7 linked regions of the Homo sapiens genome follow. The protein of the gene in region 7 interacts with the protein of the main gene of each other region in a pairwise test. Each region holds a gene or a part of one and is shown on either strand. Other genes may lie near its edges. The genes, in order: KRTAP8-1, FAM222B, PROP1, PATZ1, GLYCTK, ZIC1 and SMUG1.

The links.
Region 1: the proteins of SMUG1 (region 7) and KRTAP8-1 interact in binary tests that used the Homo sapiens proteins (3 or more experiments, as listed by UniProt).
Region 2: the proteins of SMUG1 (region 7) and FAM222B interact in binary tests that used the Homo sapiens proteins (3 or more experiments, as listed by UniProt).
Region 3: the proteins of SMUG1 (region 7) and PROP1 interact in binary tests that used the Homo sapiens proteins (3 or more experiments, as listed by UniProt).
Region 4: the proteins of SMUG1 (region 7) and PATZ1 interact in binary tests that used the Homo sapiens proteins (3 or more experiments, as listed by UniProt).
Region 5: the proteins of SMUG1 (region 7) and GLYCTK interact in binary tests that used the Homo sapiens proteins (3 or more experiments, as listed by UniProt).
Region 6: the proteins of SMUG1 (region 7) and ZIC1 interact in binary tests that used the Homo sapiens proteins (3 or more experiments, as listed by UniProt).

Annotation. Positions count from the first base shown.
Region 1 is NC_000021.9:30,811,948-30,815,194, forward strand, and holds KRTAP8-1 (keratin-associated protein 8-1), read right to left. Parts: upstream 1,328-3,247; 5' UTR 1,274-1,327; coding exon 1,082-1,273; 3' UTR 750-1,081; downstream 1-749. UniProt on the Homo sapiens protein: In the hair cortex, hair keratin intermediate filaments are embedded in an interfilamentous matrix, consisting of hair keratin-associated proteins (KRTAP), which are essential for the formation of a rigid and resistant hair shaft through their extensive disulfide bond cross-linking with abundant cysteine residues of hair keratins.
Region 2 is NC_000017.11:28,839,609-28,844,358, forward strand, and holds the start of FAM222B (protein FAM222B), read right to left. Parts: upstream 3,183-4,750; 5' UTR 3,074-3,182; intron 1-3,073.
Region 3 is NC_000005.10:177,993,407-177,998,229, reverse strand, and holds the start of PROP1 (homeobox protein prophet of Pit-1), read left to right. Parts: upstream 1-1,987; 5' UTR 1,988-2,296; coding exon 2,297-2,405; intron 2,406-3,891; coding exon 3,892-4,124; intron 4,125-4,823. UniProt on the Homo sapiens protein: Possibly involved in the ontogenesis of pituitary gonadotropes, as well as somatotropes, lactotropes and caudomedial thyrotropes.
Region 4 is NC_000022.11:31,335,786-31,340,029, forward strand, and holds part of PATZ1 (POZ-, AT hook-, and zinc finger-containing protein 1 isoform long C), read right to left. Parts: intron 2,237-4,244; exon of another isoform or gene 1,883-2,236; intron 79-1,882; coding exon 1-78. UniProt on the Homo sapiens protein: Transcriptional regulator that plays a role in many biological processes such as embryogenesis, senescence, T-cell development or neurogenesis. Interacts with the TP53 protein to control genes that are important in proliferation and in the DNA-damage response.
Region 5 is NC_000003.12:52,293,232-52,296,440, reverse strand, and holds the end of GLYCTK (glycerate kinase), read right to left. Parts: 3' UTR 1,184-3,209; downstream 1-1,183.
Region 6 is NC_000003.12:147,407,689-147,412,427, reverse strand, and holds the start of ZIC1 (zinc finger protein ZIC 1), read right to left. Parts: upstream 3,064-4,739; 5' UTR 2,316-3,063; coding exon 1,334-2,315; intron 1-1,333. UniProt on the Homo sapiens protein: Acts as a transcriptional activator. Involved in neurogenesis. Plays important roles in the early stage of organogenesis of the CNS, as well as during dorsal spinal cord development and maturation of the cerebellum.
Region 7 is NC_000012.12:54,182,588-54,186,391, forward strand, and holds part of SMUG1 (single-strand selective monofunctional uracil DNA glycosylase), read right to left. Parts: intron 1,373-3,804; 5' UTR 1,354-1,372; coding exon 1,069-1,353; intron 37-1,068; coding exon 1-36.

The sequences.
Region 1 (3,247 bases), on a different chromosome or scaffold from region 7:
ATACATAAGATGTTTTCAATAGAAGGATTGAGACTTTTTTTATCTGGCTTATAAAAGGAAATTGCTCCCTTCCCTAAAGGAACACAGAGAAAAGCTGATACATCTTCAGAAATATTCATTACAGCTCATATCTTTTAAGTGAAACTCGCTATCTGGTGTTGATTCTATAAAGATTAAGAAACTTGTCATGGTTGTGAATAACCCAGGTGCTTCAAAGCTACAAAATAGACACCTTAGATGGTTTGATATAGGGGATTTATCCCTTCACCTTAAAAACTCTCAGATTTCCAAAGGATGTCTGTGGCTTCTCTATTACTCAATGCTCCAGCATCCTTCATTAGGGGGCATGGCACTTTAGTCTATAATCCTTAGTCCCTGGGAAAGGGAACACAGTGGATTTCATTTGGACTAACATGGAAGTGACTGAAAAAGTTCCTCCTGTGTTGGGTTTTCTTGCGGAGGAGCAGAAGTAGTGAGATGAGAAGGGGACCCCGAGCAATAAATGGTGCTCCATTGGGTTGGAGGTGGGCATCATAAAATTTAAAGAAGGTTCAAACAGGCAACCTTTTAAGTCATTACCTGCAACCCACCCTCTTACCTGCTTATCACACAGGATCAGTAATTCTTTGCTTTCTGGCTGTTCCTAATGCCCACATGAGAAAAATAAATTCACTTCCCCCCCACCACCCATGTAACAGAAAATATGCACACACCAAGAAAGGAAACTTCGCTCTAGCATGAGAATATTATACCAGCTGAGACAAATTTATTGAGATTTTGATAGACATATCCATGACTTCATCACAAGTCATGAGTGTCATGGAAAATTCAAAAGTAGCTCATGACAAGTGGGAGGTCAAATTTCCGAAAATGTCCCAGAGAACATCAGCCAGGGGAGGCAGCTTGAGGAAGCGTCTGCTTTTTCATTTTCCTCCCCTGGGACTCGAGGTAAGTTGGAAAGCAGTGTCTCTGAGGTTGATGAGCAAATGAGGACTGAAGGAGTGGATACGGGGGGAACCTGGAGATGTGGGGCTCAGCCTTCAAGGGAGAGAAGATGCTACACCTCGGGGATTTCAGCCAATCAGTAGAGAGCAAATGGCGAGTATCTCCTGTAGCCGAAAGCCCCACAGCCGTTGTAGCCATAGCCGAAGCCATAGCCCACTGGAGAGTAGGTGCTGCCATAGCCACAGCCAACGCTATATCCCAGCGGGTAGCCATAGCTGCCCCAGTAGCATCCTGGGAAGACAGCCCCGGGGAAGTTGTCGCAGAGCATGGTGTCGGGAGTGGAGGGCTTAGGTAGCAACAGAGTGCGTTTCCTCAGTGGGATGGATTCCTAGTCTCAGAACCTTCTTTATATATCCCAGCTCTGGTGGGTGGTGAAAAACACAAAGCCCTCATTTTCATTCTTGACACCAATTTACATTCTAAAAAGCTCATTAACTTGTTTTGCTCTTGCTTATGATGTCTTTACAGTGGCTTAAGAAAGCTCTCGTGTGATGCAATACAGGGAGAAGATGCCTTTAAACAAATTATTTCCCTTCCTAAAAAAAAAAAAATTATTGCCAGGACTTCAAAGCACTCTGTCTTATAGACCCCATATAACTCTGTAAGCAGGTATATAATATCAAGAAATATTCTGAGGTTGTTAGCTGTTATGCAGTCCTCTTGCTCTCTGAATTTCCACAACACACAGTTGAAATTCAATAAATATGTGTTAAATACATTAATATATAAAATAACAAATGGATAGTGAGTCTATCTCAAAATTCTCAAAATTAAAGTATGTCTTAGTATTCACCTGCTTCAAGGATTCTCTTTTTTGGAATATGAAAGACAAGTGCAATGGAACTCATGAGAAAGAGTCTTTTTTTTTTCCTCTACTACAGCTACCGTGTTTGGGAAACTGGTTAAAAGTGTAATCTTAATCATAGTCCCCTCCTAAACTATACCTAACATCACATTTCTAGAAGACTACTTGAATTAATAGTATTGAGATTTTAAAACGGAGTATTTGGATTAATCCTTGTACTGAATTGTCAAACAAATTTAATTTTTTGGCCTGAAACATATTTCAAACTAAACATTGAAACTAATAAGGTAAACACAGAAAAATGAATTAAAAAATTTATTGTAAGATTTAAAATTTTTTTTCTCTTAGATCTAATGAAACTAGATTGTCTGACAAATGTGATGATATTATAAAGGGCCAGATGACAACATGAAATCAGTTATTTCACTTTTACAATGATCATGCACCCCAGGATAAAGAAGGAATGTTATTCCTTTCTAAACAGAGAGTCAGTTCTCAAGCATGAGTTAAAGGAGGGATAAGGCTGATCAAAACTATCTTGGATCATGTAAGACCTGATATATTATTCTCAGACACCTGCATTAAGATTTCTTACAGTGGCACTTAGTAGAGAACTTACAGAACAAATACCAAAGAGGGCATATGGAACAGAAATAGGCACAGAGATAATAGGAATCATTCTAGAAGGCCACAAAACAGATATGTATTACACATGAGCTCTCCCAGATTTTACTTCATAACCCAGAGGTAACTTTGCTCCCTGCTATCAGCAGCTAGGAATCAAAGGCTGAATCCAAGAACAAGATGAGACACTTGGAAAATTCAAAACCATGCCAGTGTTCTAGCCAGCAGTAGACTAATTACAGCAGAGGCATTTTTTTTAAATATAGATATATATATAATTTTTTTTTGAGGCAGAGTCTTGCTTTATTGCCCAGGCTGGAGTGCAGTGGTGCAATCTGGACTCACTGCAACCTCCACCTCCTTGGTTCAAGCGAGTCTCCTGCCTCAGCCTCCCGAGTAGCTGGGATTACAGGTGCATGCCACTGCGCCAGGCTAATTTTTGTATTTTTAGTAGAGACAGGGTTTCAGCATGTTGGCCAGGCTGGTCTCGAACTCCTGACCTCAAGTGATCTGCACATCTCGGCCTCCCAAAGAGCTGGGATTACAGGCGTGGGCCACCGCGCCTGGCCTAAATTTTTTTATTTTTAGTTTTTGTGAGTGCATGGTAGGTTTATATATTTATAGAGTACATAAGATGTTTTGATACAGATATGCAATGCGTAATAATCACATTCTGGAGAATGAAAACACCTACAGTACCCTGCTTCGTGAGCAAACCTGGATGGCTGCCTATGGGGATTCAGTAATTAAAATTCAAACACGATATGTGGCTTATAGCTAAACAAGTTCAGGGAATTGAAATTAGATTTATTC
Region 2 (4,750 bases), on a different chromosome or scaffold from region 7:
ATAAGATAGCTATGCCCAGCTTTAACATTTTATACTCTACTCCATGTAGTAGTCAAACATGGAATAAATTTCTGTAATGACCTATCACAATAGTAACAAATGCTTTATTTTTAAAACTATTATCTTAAACAAAGTATTATAGACAAATAATCTATTGGGACGGTCAAGGAACTAAAGTAAAAAGGTTAAAATTATACATCACTGTGCATTTCCAGGAAAGAAAAGTGAAACACATTTTACCAGACAGAGAAGTTAAAAACAACCAGGTTCATTTTTCCCATTCCTGTAAATTCACTCCCCTTATTTGTGAATCTTCAAGAATCTAGTATAGCCCCTCCCTACCTTTACTCAGGTAAAAGACCAATCACTCATCAATTGCCAAAACGCCTTGACAGTTTAAGGTCTCAATCCTCAGAGTCAGCAAAGCTGAAGTGTCTATGTCCTTTTAAAAGGAGTCTGCATCTCTACTTTAGAAACCATTTTCTCACTGCGCTTGGTGGCTTACGCCTGTGATCCCAGCACTTTGGGAGGCCGAGGCAGGCGGATCACCTGGTTCGAAACCAGCCTGACCAAAATGGCGAAACCCCATCTCTACTAAAAATACAAAAACTAGCCGGGCATGGTGGTGGGTGCCTGTAATCGCAACTACTTGGAGGCTGAGGCAGGAGAACTGCTTGAACCCGGGAGGTGGAGGTTGCAATGAGCCGAGATTGCGCTACTGCACTCCAGCCTGGGCGACAGAACAAGACTCTGTGTCAAAACAAAATAAAATAAAAAGAACCCATTTTCTCTTTCCATAAACACATAGTTTGTCCTCTGCTTTGTCTACATTAAAAAACACGTCTCAGGAGTGTTTCTTCAGCCTCTCAGGAAAACCAAGACACCTCTTGGGCTCCTCTTCTGAGATATTCCACCTGAGAGATCCCACTGACAAGCAGGGTAACAAAAAGCAGAGCTAGAGGGCTGCCTTATGCATATCTGACCTCCAAAACAGCGACAGGTCCCCGGAGCAGCCAGAGACTCCTTTGCAAAGGAGAACTTTTTATAATTTAAAAATAATAAAATGGGCCAAGCACGGTGGTTCACGCCTGTAATCCCAGCACTTTGGGAGGCTGGGGCGGGCGGATCACCTGAGGTCAGAAGTTTGAGACCAGCCTGTCCAGCAATGGAGAAACCCCGAGTGTACTAAAAAAAATACAAAAATTAGCCGGGTATGGTGGCACGTGCCTATAATCCCAGGTACTAGGGAGGCTGAGGCAGGAGAATTGCTTGAACCCAGGAGGCGGAGGTTGCAGTGAACCAAGTTCGCACCACTGCACTCCAGCCTGGGTGACAGAGCAAGACTCCTTCACCCACCTCAAAAAAAATTATAATAAAATAAAATAAAAATAAAGATAACAAAATAGCCAGGCACGGTGGCTCACGCCTGTAATCCCGGCACTTTGAGAGGCCGAGGTGGGTGGATCACCTGACGTGAGGAGTTCAAGACCAGCCTGGCCAACATGGTGAAACCCCATCTCTACTAAAACTACAAAAATTAGCCAGGCGTGGTGGTGGGCATTTGTAATCCCAGCTACTCAGGAGGCTGAGACAGGAGAATCGCTTGAACCCGGGAGGCGGAGGTTGCTGTGAGCCGAGATGATGCCACTGCACTCCTGCCTGGCGACAGAGCGAGACTCCGTCTCAAAAATAAAATAAAATATAATAAACAAATTATATTTTCACATCCCTCACTGGGCAGCCCTCCCAGCTTGTCTCAAACTAGTTTTCTTAACTCTTTTTTCCAGACGGAGTCTCGCACTGTCACCCGAACTGGAGTGCAATAGCACTATCTCGGCTCACCGCAACCTCTGCCTCCCGGGTTCGAGTGATTCCCCTGCCTCAGCTTCCCAAGCAGCTGGGATTACAGGCGCCCGCCACCACACCCGGCTGATTTTTTGTATTTTTAGTAGAGACGGGATTTCACTACGTTGGCTAGGCTGGTCTCCAACTTCTGACCTCGTGATCCGCCCGCCTCGGCCTCCCAAAGTGCTGGGATTACAGACATGAGCCACTGCACCCGGCCTTTTCTCAACTCGTTAAAGCACATTAGTGCCAACTGTGTTATAAGGCAACATGAGTTAGCTATGTTCAGAAAATATTTTAATAGATTGGCCCTCCATCCTTTCGGGTGAGGAGCTGCAAACCGTTTGTAAAAACGCCGGAGTACGGTATTTTTCCTACAGAAGTCTGATGGCTAATTTATCACATTACAGAACTGGTAGTTCTGCACATGGTCTGCTGTGCCCATAAAGAAAGCACATATGTGTCTACTGAGGTTTTACAAACAATACGCTTCTTATCTTAACAGAGAAATCAGTCATTCCATTAACAACGGTAAGGTCTAAATTCCACTAACATTGTTGGTGATACATTAACATCAACATAGTACTTACAATTCACAATTTGCATAAACAATCTCAATTACATAGGTGATGCTTGCAATAGCCCGTTTGAAGCATGACATCTTCCTGGTGTTCAGAAAGGTTAAGTGGGACCTGCCCAAGGTTACCTAACAGCTTTATCAATGGTGGACTTCCTTTCGAACCTGCCTGACTCTAAGCCCCTAGCTCTTTTCCCTAGACCCCTCCCGGCTTTCAAAAGAGGGTTCCCGACTCCCATCCTCTACCCAGAGCAGCCTATTACTCCGGGAGACCGACCCTTCCCCTGCCTGGTTCAGAGGTGGCTTCTTAAGCTCCAGCAGAGCTTTCATCCTCCACCACCCTCCCCCCGCAATCATTCTCTGAAAGAAGCGGAAAGGAGAGGCGACCAAAAGCTCCTGGAGGAAGGGATGATACAAATGGGCTGCTTCACTCCACAGCACGCAACCCCGTCCCCCTCCACCAAGCTGTCCAGCTCTGCGGCCGGCGACCGGGCCACCCGTGCCCCAAATTCTCCCATCATCACCTCAAACTGTACCTCCCCCACGCCCTTCCGTCTCCCACAGTCAGAGCCCACCCCACAAAGTCATGTATCCTTCCGCTAAGTTACCCTCTTCCCACGCGTTGTCCACTCCCCCTCCACCACTACTCACGGTCGGTGACTGGGCCCGGCCCTCATGGCTGCTCCTTTGCCGCCCGCCGCCCGCCGCCACCACTTCTCCACTGCCCGGCCCCTCAGTCACCGGCGCAGCTGTGGGGACTACCCGGAGCCGCTCCTGCGCCTGCGCAGCGTGTAGCGCCTGGGCCCTTTCGGGCCGCACGCGCCTGCGCAGCCCCTGCCGGGGGCGTCTTCCTCAGTGCCTGATGGTCTGGACCCCTGGGTCTCTAGTGGACATGGGAGCTGGCCTTGAAGAATTCTGAGGCTTAGAGAATTTGGCGGCTGCCTCAGGGTACGCCTCTGGAGTACCGTGCCTAGGTTACTAAACCCTTGGATCGCGCTTCCCCAAGGAGCCACAGACTTACTGGCTCTTCCAGAATTCTGCATCCTACTTGCACTTAAAGGCCTGAATTCAGGTGCTCTGAGGTGACCACTGATGATAAATTTGGGTCTTTTTTTTTTTTTTTCTGAGTCGAAGTTTCGCTCTTGTTGTCCAGGTTGGAGTGCAATGGCGTGATCTCGGCTCAAACAACCTCCGCCTCCCGGGTTCAAGCGATTCTCCTGCCTCAGCCTCCCGAGTAGCTGGGATTACAGGCATGCACCACCACGCCCAGCTAATTTTGTATTTTTAGTAGAGACGGGGTTTTATCATGTTGGTCAGGCTGGTCTCGAACTCCCGACCTCAGGTGATCCACCCACCTCAGCCTTCTAAAGCGCTGGGATTACAAGCATGAGCCACCGCGCCCAGCCTGGGTCTTTTTTTTTTTTTTTTTTTTTTGAGACGGAGTTTTGCTCTTGTTGCCCAGGCTGGAGTGCAGTGGCGCGATCTCAGCTCACTGCAACCTCCGCCTCCCGGGTTCAAACGATTCTCCTGCCTCAGCCTCCTGACTAGCTGGGATTACAGGCTTGCACCACCACGCCTGGCTAACTTTTGTATTTTTAGTAGAGACGGGGTTTCACCATGTTGGCCAGGCTGGTCTCGAACTCCTGACCTCAGATGATTCGCCCGCCCCGGCCTCCCAAAGTGCTGGGATTACAGGCCTGAGTCACCATGCCTGGTAAAATTTGGGTCTCTTTCAAGATGATCGTGTCTAGAATGTATCGGGGGTAATTATGTAAAGGCAGCTTTGCCATCCTAGAATACGCTACTAGCTAGGAGGTGCAATGAAGTCCTGGGGACCTTGTCAAGGAGGTGACCTCGCCTAGAATGCACTGGGGACACCGCTAAGTTCAGTATGTTTATCAAGCACATGCTGTTTATTGGACAGAAATGTTCTAGGCATCGCGTGTATGCTATTGAGGAATTCGCAGGCAAATAGTCCCCTGCTTTCCAGCTCTCACTGTGAGCCTGGCCCTTTTTCAAACTGGTAAAAGAAAACCACTAAAGTCCAGTGAGGCCCAACTGTCAGTCCCTAGACTACTGTGCTGCTTTGGCATAGCCTGACAAGAGACTAAGCTCAATCGAGTCCTGAGAATTCAACAAAACAGACTTGAAAGCAGCAGGCAAGAGGAGGTACAGGACTAAACTCTCTCCTCATCACCATGGCTCTTTTTTCTCTCTCAACTCCAGCGCTGGTCTCCTCTCTTCAGAGTTTGGACACATAAGGCCCAAGATACAACGTAAGGGGGAAAAAGAGAAGAAAAAAAGACAAGTTGAGTGCTCAATGAGGAA
Region 3 (4,823 bases), on a different chromosome or scaffold from region 7:
ATTTCCCAAATCTCACCATGTCCTCATGGTCTGGGTGACTTAGAGGGTCACAGAGTGATTGTGAGCCCAAGATGTTGTGCTGAGTGTAAGGTACAGAGGTCAGAGCCTCTTGGAGGGTCTGTGTGTCCTGGAGAGTGAATGCATCCTCAGTGCCCTCAGCATTCAAGGACCTGACAGGGCCAGAATGGGTACCCCAGGCAGCAGGATGCATTGTAATTCAGTGTTCTCTTGTGAGTCCAAGCTGACTGCATGTCACTGGGTCTTGCTAGGTTAGGACTGCCATGGGGTTCAGGGTGCTCCAGGAGGTCAAAGTGTGTCCTAGGGTAGGGGAGAAGGGTTAAAATTAGAGCAGTGTTTCCCAATTTTACGTTGCTATGGACTAAACGTTTGTGTCCCTCCAAAATTTCTACGTTGAAGTCCTAACACCCAACGTGATGGTATTTGAAGGTGGGGATTTGGGGAGGTGATTAGGTTTAGATGAGCTCATGAGGGTGAGGCCCCATGATGGGATTAGTGTCCTTACAAGCAGAGGAAAAGAAACCAGAGCTGGTTCTTTCTCCACCATATGAAGGCACCGAGAGAAGGCAGCCACCTGCAAGCCAGGAAGAGAGCCCTCACAGGGGAGCCAAATAGGCGGACCCCTTGATCTTAGACTTCCCAGCCTCCAGAACTGTGAGCAATAGAAGTCTATTGTTTAAACCACACAGTCTATGCTATTTTGTCATGGCAGCCCCAGCTGACTAAGACCCACGTGCACTCGGTTCTCCTGGAGATCTTGATACAAGGCAGATTGTGACTCAGTAGAATGGAGGTGGGGCCCAGGGATCTGCATTTCCAACATGCTCCCATTGCTGGTGCTGCTGCTGCTGCTGATCCATGGACCACACGGTAAGCATCGAAATCCTAAAGGATTCTGATTTCCTGTCTTGAATCACCAGCGTGTTTTTAAAGGACCTGTATGACGGCATGACCCTGGGAATCAGACTGTCCTGTGGGTACAGTGTGTTCCAGGGGGTCCATGTGTTCTCACTGGGTCAGTGTATCCTGAGAAGCAGAGGTGAAGTGTTCTGGGTGTCAGCGTGTCCCAGGGGATCCTAAGGTCCTGGGCTGTTGCATCATCCTTAAACTGTCAGAGTGTCCTGGGGATGTCAGAATGTACTTCCCAGGTCTAAGTAACCTCAAGGGGCAGAGTACTGTGGGACCAGGCTGTCCTGACTGCTCAGAGATTCCCGGTGTCAGGATTTTCTTGAAGAATCAGAATGTAGTATGTCACGGGAATCTCAGTCTCTTTCCAAGTCCTGGAGTCTGGAGTGGGTTTGGGGGTCAGGATGCAGCTGGAATGCAGATGTTCAGGTCAGGGTTTTCGGAGAGTCTGGGTGACCTTGGAAGGTCATGGTGTCCTGGGGGTTCTGGGTGAATGAGGAAGTGGTGTTTGAGGGAGGAAATCAGAAAGTACTTGAGAGCTAAGGTGTCCTGGAGGCCCATTCTCCGGAGTGGGTTCAGGTTGGCCTGAGCACTGGCTGGTGTGTTCTGAACTATCAGGGTATCTGAGAGGGGCCAGCATGCACTTGTGACTTCTCCTTTTTTAGTTTCCTGGAAGCAGATCCTTGAGTGTCACCCCCATGCTGAGACGCCAGGCAGGCTCCACTCCTGGGTCCCTTTCCCCTGCTCTTCGTTCCTCTCCCCACAGTGGGGTTGTGAGGAGGGGGTCTCGGGAGGAATGCATTTTCTCCTCCTCCCCCTGCCTGCTCCCAGGAGGGGATTTAACAGGACAAAAGAATCCGGTCCTCTGGGAATACGAGCCCTTGGCCCCAGTCCCTGGACCCTCCGACAGAACACCTTCCCTCATCCGGCTTGTGATCCTCCCTGAGCAAGGGGGCTCTGGTGACCGTGTAGTGATTGGATGGGCCCACAGGGGCGAGGAGGAGGTCACTCCTCCAAGACTCAGGGGTGGGATGGGAAAGTAGGCAGCTGACAGAAGGGAGCAGCATCCCGGTGGGGAGAAGGGCCAGGCAGAGAAAAGTAGTCAGAAACAGAGCAACAGGTGAGGCTGAGGCAGGAGATTGAGCTGACACTCAAGCCAAGGAAGGGGGAATTAGGAAACAATTAGAAAAAAAGTAAAGACAGTGAAAAAGTCAGAGACAGCTGCCTGCACCTACACACACATTCAGAGACAGAGTCCCAGAGGGTGGCATACACAGAGGGAGAAGGGGAGGGAACAGGTGTGGAGAGGAGCTGCGGAAGCAGAGAAATCTCAAGTCAGAGATTCAGGGACACTTGGTCCCCGTGGCGAGCCATGGAAGCAGAAAGGAGGCGCCAGGCTGAGAAGCCAAAGAAGGGGCGAGTCGGCAGCAACCTGTTGCCTGAGAGACACCCGGCCACTGGGACCCCGACCACCACGGTGGGTGAGTGACCGTCCCGGTGTGCGTGGGTCCCTGAGGAGGCAGCGGGTGTGAGGCTGAAAGCATAGGCTCCATGAAGAAGGTTAGGAGGAGAAATTAAAACCCGAATCCTATCATGTTAAAACTGTGGGAACCTTTGAAAGTAAAAGGGACTGGAGCACCCCTTGGCTTTACAGACTGGGGAACTGAGCCCTTGGCAGGAGGGGGCGGCTGAACAGCTCACATTGCAGTGGGGATGTGAGACAGTTACCTCTGTCCCCTCACTCCTGACCTCAGAGTTGGTTAGCCCAAGCCACTGCCTTCTCTGATGAAGGGAGCTGGAGGGGCCAGGGCTTTGGGTCCAGGGCGGGAGGGCGGGCTCCGTGTGTGTGTCCCCCATGGTGGACAGTGAGCTCTAGGAGGGTCCACGCCCTTGGGCCCCATGGGGATGGTGCCTCGGCTCCAGACATCTTTTCTTGGTGTGCGCCTTCCAGGTGTGTCCTTTCCCTCCCCGTTCTCTCCTCCCCAACAGCTCTCAGACTAATTAGTGTGGGGGCTTAGGGAGCCTGTGGGGAGGAAGGCAAGCCTTTCCCACGAGCTCAAGTTCCTGCAGCCTGGTGGCTGGGCCAGGGCAGGGGTAGGGAGGAGATGAAAAGTAAGTAGGGGAGGGTGTGTCTGAGCGGAAGAGGGGGGTGCCCATCTTCCCAGGTGAGGGGTGCGGGAGATGGCAGCAGTCTGAAGAAGGCACAGGTTGAACAGGAGCCTCGCCAGCAGGGGACAAGCACTAGGGTCTTCCGTAGACAGCTGGGACGATTGTTAGGGTGCAGGTGCACACAGCAGACCCACAGGGTGAGCCCCAGGTGGTCGTGTGTGTCCAGAAGGGTGAACGTACATGGAGGGGTATGTGTCTGGCAGTGCAATAGGAAGTGGGCAGACAGTAGAGTTGCCAGGTAGACAGTGCATGAGTGCCAGGGCCAGGAATGAGTCTGAGGGTGTGCCCTGTGTAGACAGCACAGCCTGGTGTCAGAGACTCAGAGGCAACCAGGGGCCGAGGCTGAGCAGGGTGCAGGAACCAGGCTATGGCAGCTAAAAGATTCCCGGTGGGGCAGGGCTGGGTGCGGTGGCTCAGGCCTATAATCCCAGCACTTTGAGAGGCTGACATGGGAGGACTGCTTGAGGCCAGGAGTTTGAGACCAGCCTGGGCAAGATAGCAAGACCCCATCTCTAATTTTTTATTTTTTTAATTAGCTGGGTATGTTGGTGTGCACCTGTAGTCCCAGCTACTCAGGAGGCTAAGGCAGTAGGATCACTGGAGCCCAGGGGTTCGAGGCTGCAGTGAGCTGTGATCACACCACTGCACTCCAGTCTGGGAGACAGAGCAAGACTCTGTCTCAAAAAAAGACTGGAGCAGCACAGGACGCACTGAGCGCAATCCCGGGACAGGCACATGTGGTCCAGCACCGAGGAGCGTCCTCCTCAGAAGCCGCCCCTCCCTTCTCTCCGTTCTCAGACTCGAGTGCTCCACCCTGCAGAAGGCTCCCTGGTGCAGGAGGGGGGAGATCAAGGTTCTCCCCGCAAGGAGGACAGAGGGGCCGCCCGCACTCCCGGCGCCGCCACCGCACCACCTTCAGCCCAGTGCAGTTGGAACAGCTGGAGTCAGCCTTTGGGAGGAACCAGTACCCCGACATCTGGGCCCGAGAGAGTCTTGCCCGGGACACTGGCCTCAGTGAGGCCCGAATCCAGGTGATGCTCCAGGATCCTCCTCTCTCAGGAAAGAAATGCAGATTTCTTTGGTGCTATCATAGAATGTTGGGCATTATAACCCTAACCTAAATGGTCACCAGACACAGGCCTCATCTCACCACCAGCATCAGAGCAACTGCATTGAGAATATCATATCACTTGAGTTTAACCCTAGCTATAAGCTAATCTAACTTGAATTTCAACACCTACCCTCAATATTTAATAGTGATGCCAATTCCGGCTGGGCACAATAGCTCACACCTGTAATCCCAGCACTTTGGGAGGCCAAGCTGGATGGATCACCTGAGGTTAAGAGTTCGAGACCAGCCTGGTTAACATGGTGAAACCCCATCTCTGCTAAAAATACAAAAAATTAGCCAGGCATAGTGGCAGGTGCCTATAATTAATCCCAGCTACTCCGGAGGCTGAGGCAGGAGAATCACTTGAACCCGGGAGGTGGAGGTTGCAGTGAGCCAAGATCATGCCACTGCACTCCAGCCTGGGCAACAAGAACAAAACTTTGTCTCAAAAAAAAAAAAATAGTGATGCCAATTCCAACAGAAGTTCAATCCTAACTGTCCATATTCTTACAGAAGCTTGTCCCTAACCATAGCCTTGAAACTCAATGAGCCAAATGCTCCCTCAATCCTAACCCCAGGGTTGGTTAGCCTTAAGTGTAAACCCTACCCTAAATTCAAG
Region 4 (4,244 bases), on a different chromosome or scaffold from region 7:
CTGGCAGGGCACCTTGTCTTCATGACAGGCCAGGTGGGAGCGCAGACGGTCTCGGGTGGCAAAAGAAGCATTGCAGGTCTGAAGGCAGAAAAGAAAATGGGATGATGTGAAACCCAGCACCCCACACCTGACTCCCCACCAAGTGCACCATGAAGCAAAGGCAATTTCTGGCCATCACATGACCTCCCTTTATAAAGACAGCTTTAGAGTTTGGCTCAGGCTCCCTACCCAGAATGCCAAGAGGCTGCTCTTATTTCCCATGGTACCTCCTTACGGGACACTTGAGTGGGAATCACTGGTACTAACTAAATGACTACTGGAAATGTACCCAGGACATGGCAAGCTAAGCTCTATACCCCTCTACACAATGAAGAGTTACACATTTGCTCATCCTTAGACATTAAGAATTGACTTTAGGTGCATTAGCTATAATGCACAGAATTACATTTACATGAATTTACAGATGAGTTATTGGCATATAAACCAGCCTTCCTGTTCTGTATCCCTGGGTTTCCCCTAGTTTTATACAAAGAATTATATTTGTTCATTTTATTCAAAAGTGACATTAGTCTTGGCCAGGGAAATGGAAAGGAAAGGCAGGACAAAGTGCAGAGATAATTATTCGTAATATTTTCACGAGTTTGAATTGAAAAAGCAGCCCATTAAATGATAGTGGCAATTCTGACGACATGAGAATTAGCAGACAGCAAGGGCCAGAGGCTTCAAAAGTGTCTGTGGGCCGGGTGCGGTGGCTCATGCTTGTAATCCCAGCGCTTTGGGAGGCCGAGATGGGTGGATCACCTGAGGTCAGGAGTTCAAGACCAGCCTGGCCAACATGGTGAAACCCCATCTCTATTAAAAATATAAAAAATTAGCCGGGTGTGGTGGCAGACTCCCGTAATCCCAGCTACTTGGGAGGCTGAGGCAGGAGAATCACTTGAACCTGGGAGGTAGAGGTTGCAGTGAGCCAAGATCGTGTCACTGCACTCCAGCCTGGGCAACAAGTCAAGACTTCCTCTCAAAAAAAAAAAAAAAAAAAAAAATCCGGGCGCGGTGGCTCACACCTGTAATCCCAGCACTTTGGGAGGCTGAGGCGGGCGGATCACGAAGTCAGGAGATCAAGACCATCCTGGCTAACACGGTGAAACTCGGTCTCTACTAAAAACACAAAAAAATTAACCAGGCATGGTGGCAGGTGCCTGTAGTCCCAGCTACTCGGGAGGCTGAGGCGGGAGAATGGCATAAACCCGGGAGGCAGAGCTTGCAGTGAGCCGAGATCACACCACTGCACTCCAGCCTGGGCAACAGAGCAAGACTCCGTCTCAAAAAAAAAAAGCATTTGTGAAACGTTAAGCTGGGGAAGTGCTGGTGACAGCAAGGATGATGATACTACCCTGTATTGATTAAGCATTCATTGTGTGCCAGGCAGGCACGGTGCTCAGCCTTTTAGAGGCACTTATCTCATGCAACCCATCCTGACAGCAGCCCTCCGAGGCAAGCTGTGTGATCACCCTCCAAGACAGCGTGGCTTTGGAAAGCTGTGGTGTGAGCTGAGCACCAACTCACAGCCAGGCCCCCGGGGTTGGATGAGTCAGGAGCTGAAGGTCAGAACCAGCACCCTGGAAGGAGGACTCAGGTTGGCAGGCACTTCCTGTACCTGAGCACCTGACTTAGTACCAGTGATCAGTCTCCTCACAACATCCCTTCCTCAGCTGGAGCTTACAAAGGCATTCCAGCTGTGGGGGTCATAGAATATTGGGAAAGCCCTGAGAAGAGCTGAATCCGTTGGCTTTCAAGCTATTTTGGTTCCAGGGAGGTGTTTCATGGGTTCTAGTCAATTTTGACTCATTTCTTTTGTGTGTGTGTGTGTTTACTGTTTTAGAACTGTAAGAGAAAGCAACATTCACCTTTGTGTCACAGATCAAATGGTAACCCACTGAAGACCACCCCATTACCTTGTGCTAGAACGGAACTGCCTCTGCCATCTCTCTTTAACAGAAGCACATCCTGAGAACCTGAGAGCTCAAGGTAAGTGGCTGAACACTGTCAACACATACAGACATCTAACTGTCTCCTTACTGTACAGCCATAGCAAGAAACAAACGCATGCAATGCTGTCAAGGTAGAAGACACCACTGTTTACTACCCCAGTCCCAAATATCTGTGTACGTTAGCACAGCCTACCTAGCTCTTCTGTCATTGTCTTTTTAAGTAAACATTATACATTTGAACTGAATTTGTAGCAATGACATACTGCTTTTATCTGTTTTATATATTCAGTGTATTCATATCATAAATGAGGAAACCTTCAGAAGGTGAACTTGCTTAAAACACAAGACTCAGCTACTAAAGAAAGTCTAGCACACCCACCCCCACCACACCCAGGCCAGTACTTTACCAATCCTCCTGGACACCCTGGGGGATTCTGATCTCTCCCAGTTTACAGCTGGGCCAGTGGAGGCCGTGAGAGGATATGAGACAGCTGGACTAAGAACCAGTCCCAGAGCCTGTGCTCTTACCATCTCCAGATTCAGGAGAGGGAGCTTCTGCTGAGTGAAAGGTGCTCATACTTTATAACACAGTGTACAGTACTTGGCAGCCAGGACTCCCAAAAGGGAAAGGTGAACAGATTTGTGCAAGGAAATTCCAGCATGTAGGAAGTCAGAAAGCACCATGGATGCTTGCTCTCATGGCCACATGTGGGCCCCACGTCAGCCAGGGACCTCATGACCCAGTGACAGGCCACAGTAGGAGAAAAAAACTCCTAACCTCTACACAGCCCAGCAGTCTCTAAACCAGAGCAGGGGCTGCATAAACACCCCCGGGAAAGAGAGGTACACCTGTTGATTTATTTGGGGACAAGAGCTAGCTTTGCCAGGCAGCGACCCAAAGACCACCCCTCCAATGGTGAGAGAGGGTGTGTTCTAAGCCTCAGAACTCAAAGGAACCAACATGGATCAGGTGTAAGAAAACAGGGCTGAGGCCAGGCGCAGTGGCTCACACCTGTAATCCCAACACTTTGGGAGGCCGAGGCGGGTGGATCACAATGTCAGAAGTTTGAGACCAGCCTGGCCAATATGGTGAAACCCCGTCTCTACTAAAAATACAAAAAAATTAGCTGGGCATGGTGGTGGGCGCCTGTAGTCCCAGCTACTCGGGGGCTGAAAGCATATTCAGGATTTTGTCTTCCACAGTCTCTGGGAGAGGGAGCCACAAGAGGGATAGGAAAGAGATGCCTTGTTTCTCTTGCCAACCTTCTTTTGGGATCTGTCCTCTAAAGGCTTTGCCTGTCATGCTTTGCTACCTAAAGATGATGGATAGCCAAACTTCAGTTACCCACAAGTGGCTTATCCATTTGGGGATTAGCTAAGCAAAATTAAAATCCCAGACTGGGCTGGCTTCCCCCACCCTGTCCTCCATTGATTATCTCTCAAGGAATGAAAGCTAACTTTCGCCTGAGCAAACAGAATTAGGAATGTAAATCTGCTGCTGGGGGAAAAAACACAAACATGACAAACGCTTTCCCTGTGTTCAAAGCCAAGCTGAAGTGATTGTTGGCTTCTCTGTGCCAGGATTGACCCTCTGCTGCTGCAGTCCCCAGGTTTTCTGGGGAGCCTGTGAAAGTCCAAAGTCTAGGCACAGCAGAAGTTCAGACAACACAGAACATGAAAGAGCCTGGTCACACAACCCAGGAGAGAAGGGGCGGAGGGAGACAGATCTCAAAGGGAACATCCAGAACTTCCATGCTGGGGTGTCAGGAGAAGAGCATTCTTTGTCCTAGAGACAGGGAGAAGACAGAGGGACGCTGATGGGAAGAGAGTGAGCCAGAGGCAGAATGCTTTGACTGCCTGTGGCACTCGGAAGAGCTGCCCGGCCCACAGCCCTGTGCTTAGTTAGACAGCCTGCTGTAATTAAGGGCCATGCCTGCCAGGTCCTGGCCCAGGCACCCTGAGTGCAGGTCATCACCACTCAACACTGAGCCCCAGTCCTGCTCCCTTCCCAGACTTCCTAAAGCTTTTCTTCCTAAGGATTGAGCAGCTTGGGAATGGGGCCCAAGTGGTACCAAGGGCACTAGTGCACACCCCCACCCTTAGTAGCCCTTGAACTCAGGCAGCCTCAGGGGTAGTCTCAAGCAGCTTTCTCCCACAGCCCTGGAAAACTCTAAGGGCAATGCATGAAGGTTCAGCTCCCTGGGCTCTTTGGCCCCCTTCTTCTCGAGCATATGCCCATCTCAACGCATTCCT
Region 5 (3,209 bases), on a different chromosome or scaffold from region 7:
CCCACAAATCCTCAACACCCTGAGGCATTCCCAGAGACAGATGGGCTCAGTTACTCCCAACAGTGTTTGAGCCAGGGCTTTCGGCCTTGGTTCCAAAGCAGGCATCTAAAGGGTTCCCTGGGCTGGCTAAAGGCTTTGGAGCTGAGGCTGCATAGGGGAGGTGGGAGAGGGTCTCAGAGCCTGGTAATGCACCTCTCCTATCTGCAACCCCTTCCATCTCCTTGCATGCCCCCAACCCCCGCCCTCTGCTGTAAGGAAGCTGGCTCTCAGCATTAAAGTCCCAAAACAGCTTCATGACATTATTCCCTGCCAAAATCTTCATGAGGTTTGCCACTGATGTCAATGTGAAGTCAACTCCCTCGGCCAGGCACACTAGCCTCTGCCAGTCTTCTGGGCCTTCTTGCCCAACTTGCTCATTGTATCCCCTACACTCTAACTACACCTGTGTGTCTCCACCCTGGGATGGGGCACAGCAGAGCTCAGAGACTGGCTGTGGGCTGCACTACACATACACATGCTTATACATATATTCATGCACACGCACACATGCACACACACACAGATGTGCATACAGATGCAGACACACATTTATGTAGAAGCCCACCACTCAACTGCGCATGGTTTTCTGCCAAATCACACACACAATGGAGCTGTCCCTCTGAGACAAGAAGGTTCCAACACATCTGCTGTGTGGATCCCTGGAGAGGCCAAGCATGGTTGTGTCGCCATCCCAAGCCCTTGAGGGGCAGTGGGGAAGCAGAAGTAGATCCCCTGGATCTGGCTGAGCCCTTGCTTGGCCCCAGGGTATCTGAGCCCCAGAGAGTGGCAGAGGATAGTCAAGCAGGTTCCAACTAGGTTCTTACCCTGGTTCTGTGGCCCTTATGTGGGACTGTACAGTCCCCAGTAAGCCACCTTCTCTCTCTGAATCTCCAACTATAAATCAAACGCTTGGGACTAGCTGACACTGAAGGGCTGCCCAGGCCCACTGCCCCACTGCTCTTGGCTCATGCCAAGTGCAGAGAATGGAGAGGCCTGTGAGGGTTGCTATAGCCAGCAGGGCCAGACACCCTCCATGGTGAAATCCTCCAGCTGGGCCAGGGGAAGCTTCAGAAAATGACGATGAGGTGGGCACGAGGGCAGCAGCAGCCGGAAGAAACAGAAGCCAAGAGCAAGGGACGGGCACTTCAATGATCCAAAATTGACATTTATGGAGCAAGTAATGAATCCTATCAAAACATTCACTGTGCAGGGTTTTCTCATCTCAGCATTTAGACTGTGGCCAAATACATCCTTTCTTATCTCTGGGGTATCCAGTGAGCAAATCTAACGGGTTAGGCTCACAGACCATTTGGCCCTATGGGGTCCAATCCGGGCCCTGGCCTCCCAGCCCCTACAAACAGAAGTATAGGGAAGGGGTCAATGTAGAGCAGGGGGAACCTCCTGCAAGATCCTATCCATACCCAAAGCCCTCAGCAGGGATGCAGGGAGTCATGTGCCCTGTACTAAGTATCTATGTGTACACTCAGAGATGCATTCCCACTCTGAGTACGCCAACACCAACGTCTGTATACTCACACACCTACCACCCACACACACACTGGGGACATGGCTGCCAGGCCCTCAGCTCCTGCAGCCCCTGCCCCAGCTCTCCTATCCTGCTTTTGCCTGGAACTTGGAACCCAGTGCCAATACTCATGCTCCCAAGAGCAAGGACTGAGGCAGGAACAGGCTACATGTAGACGCTGCCAGAGGAGCACCACGGCACAGGATCATGCGAGGATCACCATAACCCCAGAGACTGTGACCCTAGTCAGCAGGAACTCCATGCCAGCACAGAAGGAAAGGAAGCGGTGCCTGCGCATCCCAGTGGGGTGCAAGCTCCCCTTTTCCTAAACCTCCCTGGTCCCCAGAGCCCGCTTACCACGTTTACCTCCCTCCCAATCTCCAGCCTGCCCTGTGTGAGCCAGGCCCCCAGGTCATGAACTGTCTGCAAGCTAGGCTGCCCAGAGCCCAGGTGGGGAAGGGAAACCCTTCCCAGGGGAAAGTCCTGCCAGCCCTGGCCCAGGGCCCCTCCACACCCTCAGGGAGGAGGGGAGGGTTGGGGTGGAAGAAGTGCCTGCAAGAGCAGCCCCAGGCCTCGCTGTTCTCTATGGCTTTTTATTCCTATGTGATTCTACTGCTCACTCATATAGGGATTGGAGCCGTGGCGCACGGCGGGGACAGCCAGCGGAGGGTTCTGACACTGAGCAAGGGGGCTCAAAAGGAGGCAGGACAGTGGCACCTCCCTCTCTCAACCCAGGCTGCTGGCCAGGCCAACACAGCCGTTCCTCTATTCCCACTTGCCTCTTCTCCCGCCAGTGGTCACAGGAAGAGGTGTGGGTCACTGGACCTCATCACTGGCTGGACCCACCATCCCAGTGCTGGGACCCCCACTGAAGGGCTGACTTCAGGGTCTGGACTTGGTCCCCAGAGGAGTGGCTGAAGGAACTAGGGATGTTCAGCCTAGGACAAGGGCTGTCACAAGGAAACAGCACTGGGGGGTGGGACAAACTTCAGCTCAACCAGAAGTGCAGTATGTGGCTAAGGGCTGTCCAAAGACAGAAAGGACATCCATCCAACGAGGCCTACAAGCTGAGGCTGGAGAAGCCATGGTGACAGTGCCATGGTGGAGTCATGGTTGGGTGGGTGGGTGGCTGGTCACCCCAGACTGCAGTCTTTAGGCCTGTCCTCCCTGGGGTCTCTGCTCACGCACATCAAAGCTGTCAGGAGCCAAGCTCAACCCTCACACACTCCAGAGGGATGGGCACAGGCTCCCGTTATGCGAGGCACATCCTGCACGTACCCAGCCCAGTAGAGGGGTGTTAAGAGTCCTGCCAGGCCCTGGTACTGTGGCTGCAGCCGTACCACGCTCCCCTCCCAGCGGCTCCCCCGTGAGGCCTCACTCTGAGGGAAGGCGCACTGAGAACCCATGGCATGGTCCTATTTATTTTCAGACATTCTCGCTTCACAGAAAGAAACAGGGTGAGGGGCTCAAGAGAGAGGCTGCCCAAGGGAGAAGCACGGGAACGCTGAACTGGCCGAGGGGCTTGTCCTCATCCTCAGGGGTAGGGGGAAGCCCCCATCTGCCAGTCTGGCTGGAAGGGAATAGATATAGAGCAGAGGCCCTGAGTGGAAGGTGACAGTTAACCAAACAGCCAAGGCCAAGGAGA
Region 6 (4,739 bases), on a different chromosome or scaffold from region 7:
AAAAAGCCAGCAGCCCAGGATTAGCACTTTGCAAGCTTAAAAACCCGGAACGTCAATAAATTCTTACATCTGCAGTGGAATTATAAATATCTTAACTCTATTGTAATCCCTAATACAATTGGATCTACATTTTATTTTTATGTTTAAAAAAATTAATAGTAGGAGGAGTCGGTTTTTAGCATCAGATCTGGAAACTCGTATTACCCAGAGCTACACACGATTTCGGATTGCTTCCACCTGGCTCCTGGTTTCTAGTTTTCACGTTTGCGGCTTATTCTCCTGCCCTATTGCTTTTCTCTCCTCCCCCTGCCCCCTCCCCGACGCTCCGCATCCCCTGGTCGCCTCCTCCAACCCACCCCACTCCCTACATACACTCACATTTTATAGCGTAATCTGGGCCGGAGAGAACTCAACGCCGCAAATTCTTCCCTGACTCGGGCGTTAAACCCGAAGTCTCAAGCATGGTTCTCAGATCTCACCCGGGAAAATCAGAATAGGAAAGGAGACCCAGTTCCCGGCCTCTTGGGGGCAGGGGGCCCAGAATGTTTTGTCTGATGCCAGGCTACAACCCTGAGCTCGTGGGAACTTTTTTTTTTTTTAACTGTTCCGGACCTGTGTCTTGATTATTTTTAAAGGCCAAAGAGGGGAATCTGGTGTTTTGAAAACACCCTCATGGAGTCTAATAGACAACAAGTTCTTCCTTGCCTTCCTCGGACTTTCTCCACCCCTCAAACCCACTCTTAAAACCAGTCACTACTAAAACTGAACTCTTCAAATATGCATAAAGCTCCAAAAGCCTCCTCAATCCCAAATTATTTCCTTTCCCCACTCTGTCTCAATTCTTTCTGTCTCTGTTTTGTTTCTTTCTACGCCCTTAACCCGGCCTCCTCAATTTCCTCAGCTCTTTCCTTTGGCAAAGTCCTCAGTGAAGTGCACGGAGAGAGATGTTGGCAGCAAGCAAGGGTTTAGATTTGTCTGCAGCCTGAGCAGCTGGCGCCTCCGCGGCTGCCGGGAGCCAGCCACTTTCTCCGGCTTCGAAAGCACCAAGGTCTCCGCCAAACCAGGTTTGGCTTCCTGTTCTCCGACCTTTTTTGTTTCTCATTTAAAAAATCTATATACCCAGCTCCTCCTCGTCCGCCCTGTGTGTGTGTGTGTGTTTTCCATAATTTCAAGCCAGAAACTAAAAATCAGCGCACACTTTCCCTGCCTGCCTGCCGGAACCTGACGCCCGGGATCCCACCGAGGCTGCGTTTGTGCGACCTGGCCGCTGACTTTCGGTTTGGGTCCCAGGCCCAAGTGGGAATGGGTAGGGGTCCTACAGCTGTTTCCGTACCTGTGTGCGTCCTTTTGTGGATCTTTAAATTCTCGGAGCGCGCGAAGACCTTGCCACAGCCAGGGAAGGGGCAGGGAAAGGGCTTCTCGCCCGTGTGCACGCGGATGTGGTTAACCAGTTTGTATTTGGCTTTGAAGGGCTTGCCCTCGCGCGGACACTCCTCCCAGAAGCAGATGTGATTACTCTGCTCCGGGCCACCTACGTGCTCCACGGTGACGTGCGTAACTAGCTCGTGCATGGTGCTGAAAGTTTTGTTGCACGACTTTTTGGGGTTGGCCAGCTGCTCGGGCTCGATCCACTTGCAGATGAGCTCTTGCTTGATGGGTTGGCGCATGTAGCGGAAGAAGGCGCCGGCGCCGTGATGCGCGGCCATGTTCACGTTCATGGGCCCGTAGCCGTGCAGCTGCGGCGCAGCATAGTGCTCCGAACGCGGGCTGGTCACCTGGCCGTACTGCTCCGGTCGCGGGTACATGTCCCCCGAGAAGCCGAGCCTCATCTGCCCGTTGACCACGTTAGGCGACGCGTGGCCGGCAGCCTGCTCGTGAAGCCCGGGGAAGAGGAGGTGGCCCGCGGCGTCCGTGTGGCCGTGTGGGCCCCCGAAGCCCCCGGCCGATGCAGCAAAGAGGCTGTGCTGTGCGCTGGCTGCCGCCGCCGCGTCGCCAAAACCCCGGTTGCGGAACAGAAAGTCCCGCGTGGAGTTGAAGGCTGCGCTGGAATAGGAGCCGACGTGGCCCGGGTGATGGTGATGGCCCAGGGCCGCAGCAGCCGCGTAGCCTGGCGCCTGCGACGTGAAGGCCGTCTGGCCGGCCGAAGCCAGCTCGTGCGAACTGGGGTTGAGCTTGAAGGCGCCCATGCCGTCGGCGAACGGGTTGATGCCCAGGCCCACGTCTCGTTCGGCCACGTCGCCCGCGGAGTGGTGGCGGGACGCGCCAAAGGTGGTCACGCCGATCGCTGGGTACTGGGGGCCGGCGTCCAGGAGCATCGTGGCTGCTCGGGGCGAGCCCCGGCCTCCCCCGCCCCCCCCACCCTCGCCAGCCGAGGAGGGAAAATCGGGAGGAGGAGGAGGAACAAGAGGAGGAGGAAGAGGAGGAAGAAGAGGAGGAGGGAGGGGGAGTCGACCCACCTCGCGAAGTCCTAGCCTGCAGGCAATGGCGCGGCGCGCCCGGGCGCTGGCCGGGCCAAACGCAAAGTAGCCGGACGGCTGCGGGCCGCGAGTAACGCAGGCTCCAGCGCCCGCCAGGCAGATTCTGCCGGCCCGGCTCGCACTTTCTCGCCGCTCAGTCTCTGCCGAGAGGGCCGCGCGTCAAGGCTGCCCGGGGAAAGGCATGGAGCATCTCAGCCCCCTAAAAAAAAACTTCCTCCTGGATTTGTAGCATAGAGGAATGTGAGCGCCAGTGCCGCGACTGCTTCGCCCTCTCTCCGCCTCGCGCAGCGCGCCCCTCCTTACTTCTCCACTAGCCCCTCGCCCTTTCTTTTCTCTCTCTCTCCTTTCTCTCACGCTCGCCTCCTCGCTCCTTCACTCTCCGTTTTTCCCTCTCTGCTTTTTGAAAAAAAAAAAAAAAAAAGTGGGTGGGGGGGTGAAGAAAGAAAGAAAAAGCCAAAGAAAAGGCGCAAATCATGCACAATATTGTCTTTTGCGGTTTATCTTCCTGGGGAGAAACTTTCACCTCCTCAGCCGGGCGGTGAGCGCGAGACTGATAGCAGCAATCATTCCTGCAGATAAATGAATTGAAAGGACGACACCGTCCCCCCCTTGATGAATGGGAGCAGGGGGGAGGTGTCACGTGCTGCCGACGCTGGCGCCCATTGGTGCGCCCGCATTCCCCCCGCCCTCAGCCGCCGCGCCAACGGAGGGCGCGCCGAGGCGCCGCGCGCAGCTCATTGGCCCGCCCGCCTCATCAATCCCAGGTATTGTAAAGCGCTTGACATCCCCTTTTGACAAACCAGGGCTGCCAGGAGTAGCAACTTTTTTTTTAGCCAAATTTTTTCCCTCTTCTCACGGAAATTTTTTTTCTTTTTTCTTTTCTTTCTTTCTTTTTTTTTTTTTTTTTTTTTTTTTGCCACGATTACTTTTCCTTCTCACAGTCATATGCATTCCTCTTCCTCCTTTGCCCTCCCGCACCCCGGCGCTGCCCTTCCCGAAACCAACTTTTCGCTGAGCGATTAGAGACTTCAGACGTCTCCGGGTGCAGCAGGCGGGGATGGGGCTAGTAAACACAGCAAAGGCACTTCCAGAATGTCCCGATTCAGCAACTTTCTTTTCTTTCTTCCCCCTTCCCCCCTCCCTTCAAGAGCAGCAAAAGAGGCTTTTGTTATTTGCTCCTTTTGAAGTTTGTTTCCCTCTTGCTTTGTCCCCCTCCTGTTTATAATTTAAGATCTTGGGAGCACACGGGCACTATGCTCTCTTTACAAAAAAATGTAATTTCTCAGTGTAACCGGCAGCCTCTGTATTTCTCGCTTTTATCTAATCAGACTTCCGGCACCACCGCACCCCCCTCCCCGAAAACACACACACACACACACTCACACACACAGGTGGATGAAAGCGCTTAAGTTCCCAGGTTATTGAGGTTTGAATTTTTTAATGGCAAATTTGAAACGTTGTTGCCAGTTTCCTTTACTTTTTCTCTCTCTTGCGTTATTTTTCTGTTTTCTGCCTTTCCGTTGTCTCCTTCGACTGCCCCCGCTAACCCTGTCTCTCCTCACTCCTGTTCCCTACTTGGGCCCCTTTCATTCAGGTAAAACTGTAAATTTCCCAACGCGCTATTGTTCCCTTGGGCTGCCCAAAGCTCCCTAGAGATCCCCGAATACTTTTTCGGTATTTAAATCCCCAATAGATAGGACCAATGTAAATTTTGTGACATTCAAACCTTTTCTAGTTCACAAATCAGTCACCCTTGTCACAGTTATTGAAATTCCGCAACTCGCCACACCAGGACGGTGGAAAAAGCGGGCGCGGTCTTTGTTGCCGACCAGGCTTTTGATCGCCAGAGAAAATTTACTTACCTTCAGATGAGTGAGCAGAAAAAGAAATAACACTCCCTTTGATTTAGTTAGGAAAATGCAGACATTTGGATTCAGTGCAAACATACAACACTCGCTTGTTTTCGCGATGCGGCCCTCGATTAACCTGTCTTTGCCTAGCGCAAAGTCTATTCAACAACTGCGCGTAGTTTCTTTTTGTCCCTTCCACAAAGAGCCATTGACTATATATTAAAATGATTGTTGAAAGGTAGGGGAGTATGGTACTTAAAAGCAGGAAAAAAAAATCCCTGTGACTCAATCAATTAAGCCGAGCAACATTTATGCATTTCAAAAAATGCACGCGGATGCGGGGGGTTGTGGGGACGAAGGTTGCATTTCTCCGCAGCTCTGTTTAAAACCCAGCAGTCCTGGCCGAGGCTTT
Region 7 (3,804 bases):
CCAGTCCCGGACCATGCTTACTTCCCCAAAGGGCACCTGTGAGGAAGGAGAGAGACATGAAAGGCTTCAAACTGGAGACCTGAGGCCCGGGCTCTGGACCAACTGACTTCTTTATACCTTACATGAGGATCCAGCCTGCACCCCCTACCCCTACCTTCACCCAAAGGCCTGAGACAAGGATTCTTGGCCCTATGGTTTGAGCCTGTCTGTCTTTTTCCAGTTCTTCATTGTGAACCGTGGTCCAGAAGAATTTGTTTCCCTCTAGCCCAACTAGCCTTTGGGACTAAGTACAGGGACTACATTGAGATATCTAGCCCTACACAGGGTTTGATGGTTAGTACTGGGGACAGACAGATGGTCTGAGACAGAAAGGCAGCCAGGGTTAAAGGAGGCACAAGGATGGGCTGACCACTGCTGTCTGGATGCCCTCTCAGCCCCAAGCCTCAGGCTGTCATTTCCATCGATCATCATTGATCACCTTTCATCACCCAGTTGGGGTCAATAAAAGCGATTGAGCCTTCTGCCCTGAAGCCTCTTCCCCTCCCCCACCTGCCAAGCACCCCCACTGGGGGCAGTCACTCATCCTGAGCCCTGAAAGAAAAGCGGGCAGGCACTGGAGCCAGGCTCTGTTTTGAACCTCGCCTTAGCTAGGAAACAGAACCCAGGTTCCCAGAACGCCCTGCATCTCTTACATACCCACCCCTGTCAACCAGTCTCTTCTGAGGACCCAGCAGTCCTAGTCCCTCTTCTGACCCCAACCACACTTCAGGGACAGGGGAGATCCAGTAAAGTAAGGATGGGGCTGGCGGAAGGAAGGGCTCTCAGAGGCAATTACTGGCCAGCTCACAGGGAAAACGAAACTACCATTAATGTGCTTGGTTAATTACGGGCAGAGACGCTGGGAGAGGGCCTCGGACCACAGGAGCCAGTATATGTGTTGAGACAGAATGGGGCGGGAGGACCTACACATGTCTACAGCCATGCACATGCTCCTTCTCCACAGCACACCCAGCCAAGCATCCACCTAGAACCCCCCACTCCACCCACTGGGGAAGCCAAACCCTTTACCCCAGTCTGGGCCATGCCAAAAGGTCCAGGGTTCATGCCCAGGAAGAGTACTTCCTTGGGGCCCTGGCAGTAGCGAGTCACGTAGTTGCGATGTGGCTCCCATGCATACTCCACGGGATTGTAGATGATGCCCACAGGCTCCGAAAACTGCAGCTGGCTCAGCTCAGCATTGAGCCGAAGCTCCTCCTCCAGGAAGCTCTCAGCCAAGCTTCCAGGGCAGGGCTGGGGCTCCATGAGGGCACCTGCAGGCTCATGGATGGACCCCAGCAGGAAAGCCTGGGGCATATGTCCATGCCGCTGTCACCTGGGAAAAGAGATGGACAGAAGCCCCATCAACCCTCAGCCACAGAGTAGGAGGGATCCATGCTTGCCAGGGCCCCCACTACCATTTCCTGGGCTCAGAAGGGACCCTAAGAGACCATGTCAGTCATCTACCAACCACCAAGTAGGACTGAACTCATCTCAGTTCTTGGTAATGAAGGGCCCTTTCCCTCCCCACTTCCATTATCTGTCCTCTTCACATGGCACCTGGTGAGGATAAGCCATAGCCACCAAACATCTCCCACTCCAAATCTCCTTTCCATCAGGCATAGGTCACTAGTTCCTGGGCTATGCCGAGCACATAGTAGGTTTTCAATAAACATTTACTGGTGGCATCCTTTCAGCACCTTTAAGGTCATCCTAAAAAAGAAAAGCCCAGCCAGAATGGACTGTTCTGGAAAGCACGGCGCTGAAGAATGAAATGCAAGTGCACAGCCACAGCCCAGAGACCTGGGAAGGCTAATTACAATAGCTTCCAGGTGGTGAGCGACTGCTCTGCACCAGGTACACCTCATTGATCCTCACAACAATCCCATGAGGTGGGTATTACTGCTCCCCTGTTATAAGTGAGGACACTGAGGCTTAGCAAGATTAAGCAACTTGCCCAAGGTCTTACAGTTAGTAAGTAATAAAGCTGGATTTGGTTGAGCCCAATCTCTCTGGCTCAAGGCTATGCTTTAACCACCCACGCCATCTTGCCTTAGATGGTTTGATCAGCCACCCTGCTAATTCTACAACCCCCTAACCCCAGCCTAGCTTCTTTCCCACACTCAGGAATACCGAGTAGGATGATTACAGACTCCTCATAGAATCTTACGAGCTACACAACCATGGCCAGAGCCTCAGGTTTCCACCTTCAAATACAAAGAATAATAATATCCACTTAATAATGTTGACATAAGGAAGGCCAGGCATGGTGGCTCATGCCTGTAATCCCAGCACTTTGGGAGGCCAAGGCGGCTGAATCACCTTAGGTCAGGCGTTCAAAACTGGCCTGGCCAACATGGCGAAACCCCGTCTCTACTAAAAATTACAAAAATTAGCTGGGCATGCTGGGCGTGGTGGCTCAAGCCTGTAATCCCAGCACTTTAGGAGGCTGAGGTGGGCAGATCACCTGAGGTCGGGAGTTCGAGACCAGCCTGACCAAAATGGAGAAACTCCCACCTCTACTAAAAATACAAATTAGTCAGGCATGGTGGTACGTGCCTGTAATCCCGGCTACTCTGGAGGCTGAGGCAGAATCATTTGAACCTGAAAGGTGGAGGTTGCGGTGAGCCAAGATCGTGCCATTGCACTCCAGCACGGGCAACAACAGTGAAACTCTCTCTCAAAAAAAAAAAATTAGCTGGGCGTTGTGGTGGGCACCTGTAATCCCAGCTACTCGGGAGGCTGAGGCAGGGAGAACTGCCTGAACCCGGGAGGCTGAGGTTGCAGTGAGCCAAGATCGTGCCACTGCACTCAAGCCTGGGCAAAAGAGCAAGACTCCATCTCAAAAAAAAATAAAATAAAAAATAAATAAATAAATAAATAAATAAATAAATAAATAAATAAATTTGCCGGGCGCAACAGCTCATGCCTGTAATCCCAGTACTTTGGGAGGCTGAGGCAGGTGGATCACGAGGTCAGGAGTTCAAGATCAACCTGGCCAACATGGTGAAACCCCGTCTCAACTAAAAATACAAAAATTAGCTGGGCATGGTGGCACGTGCCTGTAATTCCAGCTACATGGGAGGCTGAGGCAGGAGAATTGCTTGAACCAGGACCTGGGAGGCAGAGGTTGCAGTGAGCCGAGATTGTGCCACTGCACTCCAGCCTGGGCTACAGAGGGAGACTGTCTCAAAACAAACAAACAGACGTAAGGATGGAATGAGATGTTATGTTTAGGTGAAGGGAGAAAAGAAATGGGAGAGGAAGAAGAAAGGGAAGAGAGAAGGGAGGTGGGAGGAAGGAGAAGGGAGGGGGCAGGAACATGACAGCAAGCTTTGTAAACTGCAAAGGCCATTGCTTCACTCCACTCCCATTCAAACCCAGTGTTCCAACCTGACCATTCTACTCACATTTTCAAAATGCCTTTCCTGCCTCAACTCCCAAAACCTTGCACATACCATTTCTACAGTCCAACCAAATACACTCCTGAAGTCAACCAGGACATCATCCAGCAGTCATCCAGTCAACTAGGACTGTTGATTCCCCAACCTGTCCACATATCCAAATCACTCCCATCCTTCAAAATGCAGCTCAAACCATCCCTTTGATAAAGTCTTCCCTCCTCAGAACACTGCAGTATTTGCCATAGTGTCCCAACCCCACCCCCAACACAAGTAGGTCCCGTGTGAGGCCTGGGAATCTGTGTTTTTTGTTTTGTTTTGTTTTGTTTTTTTTTTGAGACAGAATCTTGCTCTGTCGCCCAGACTG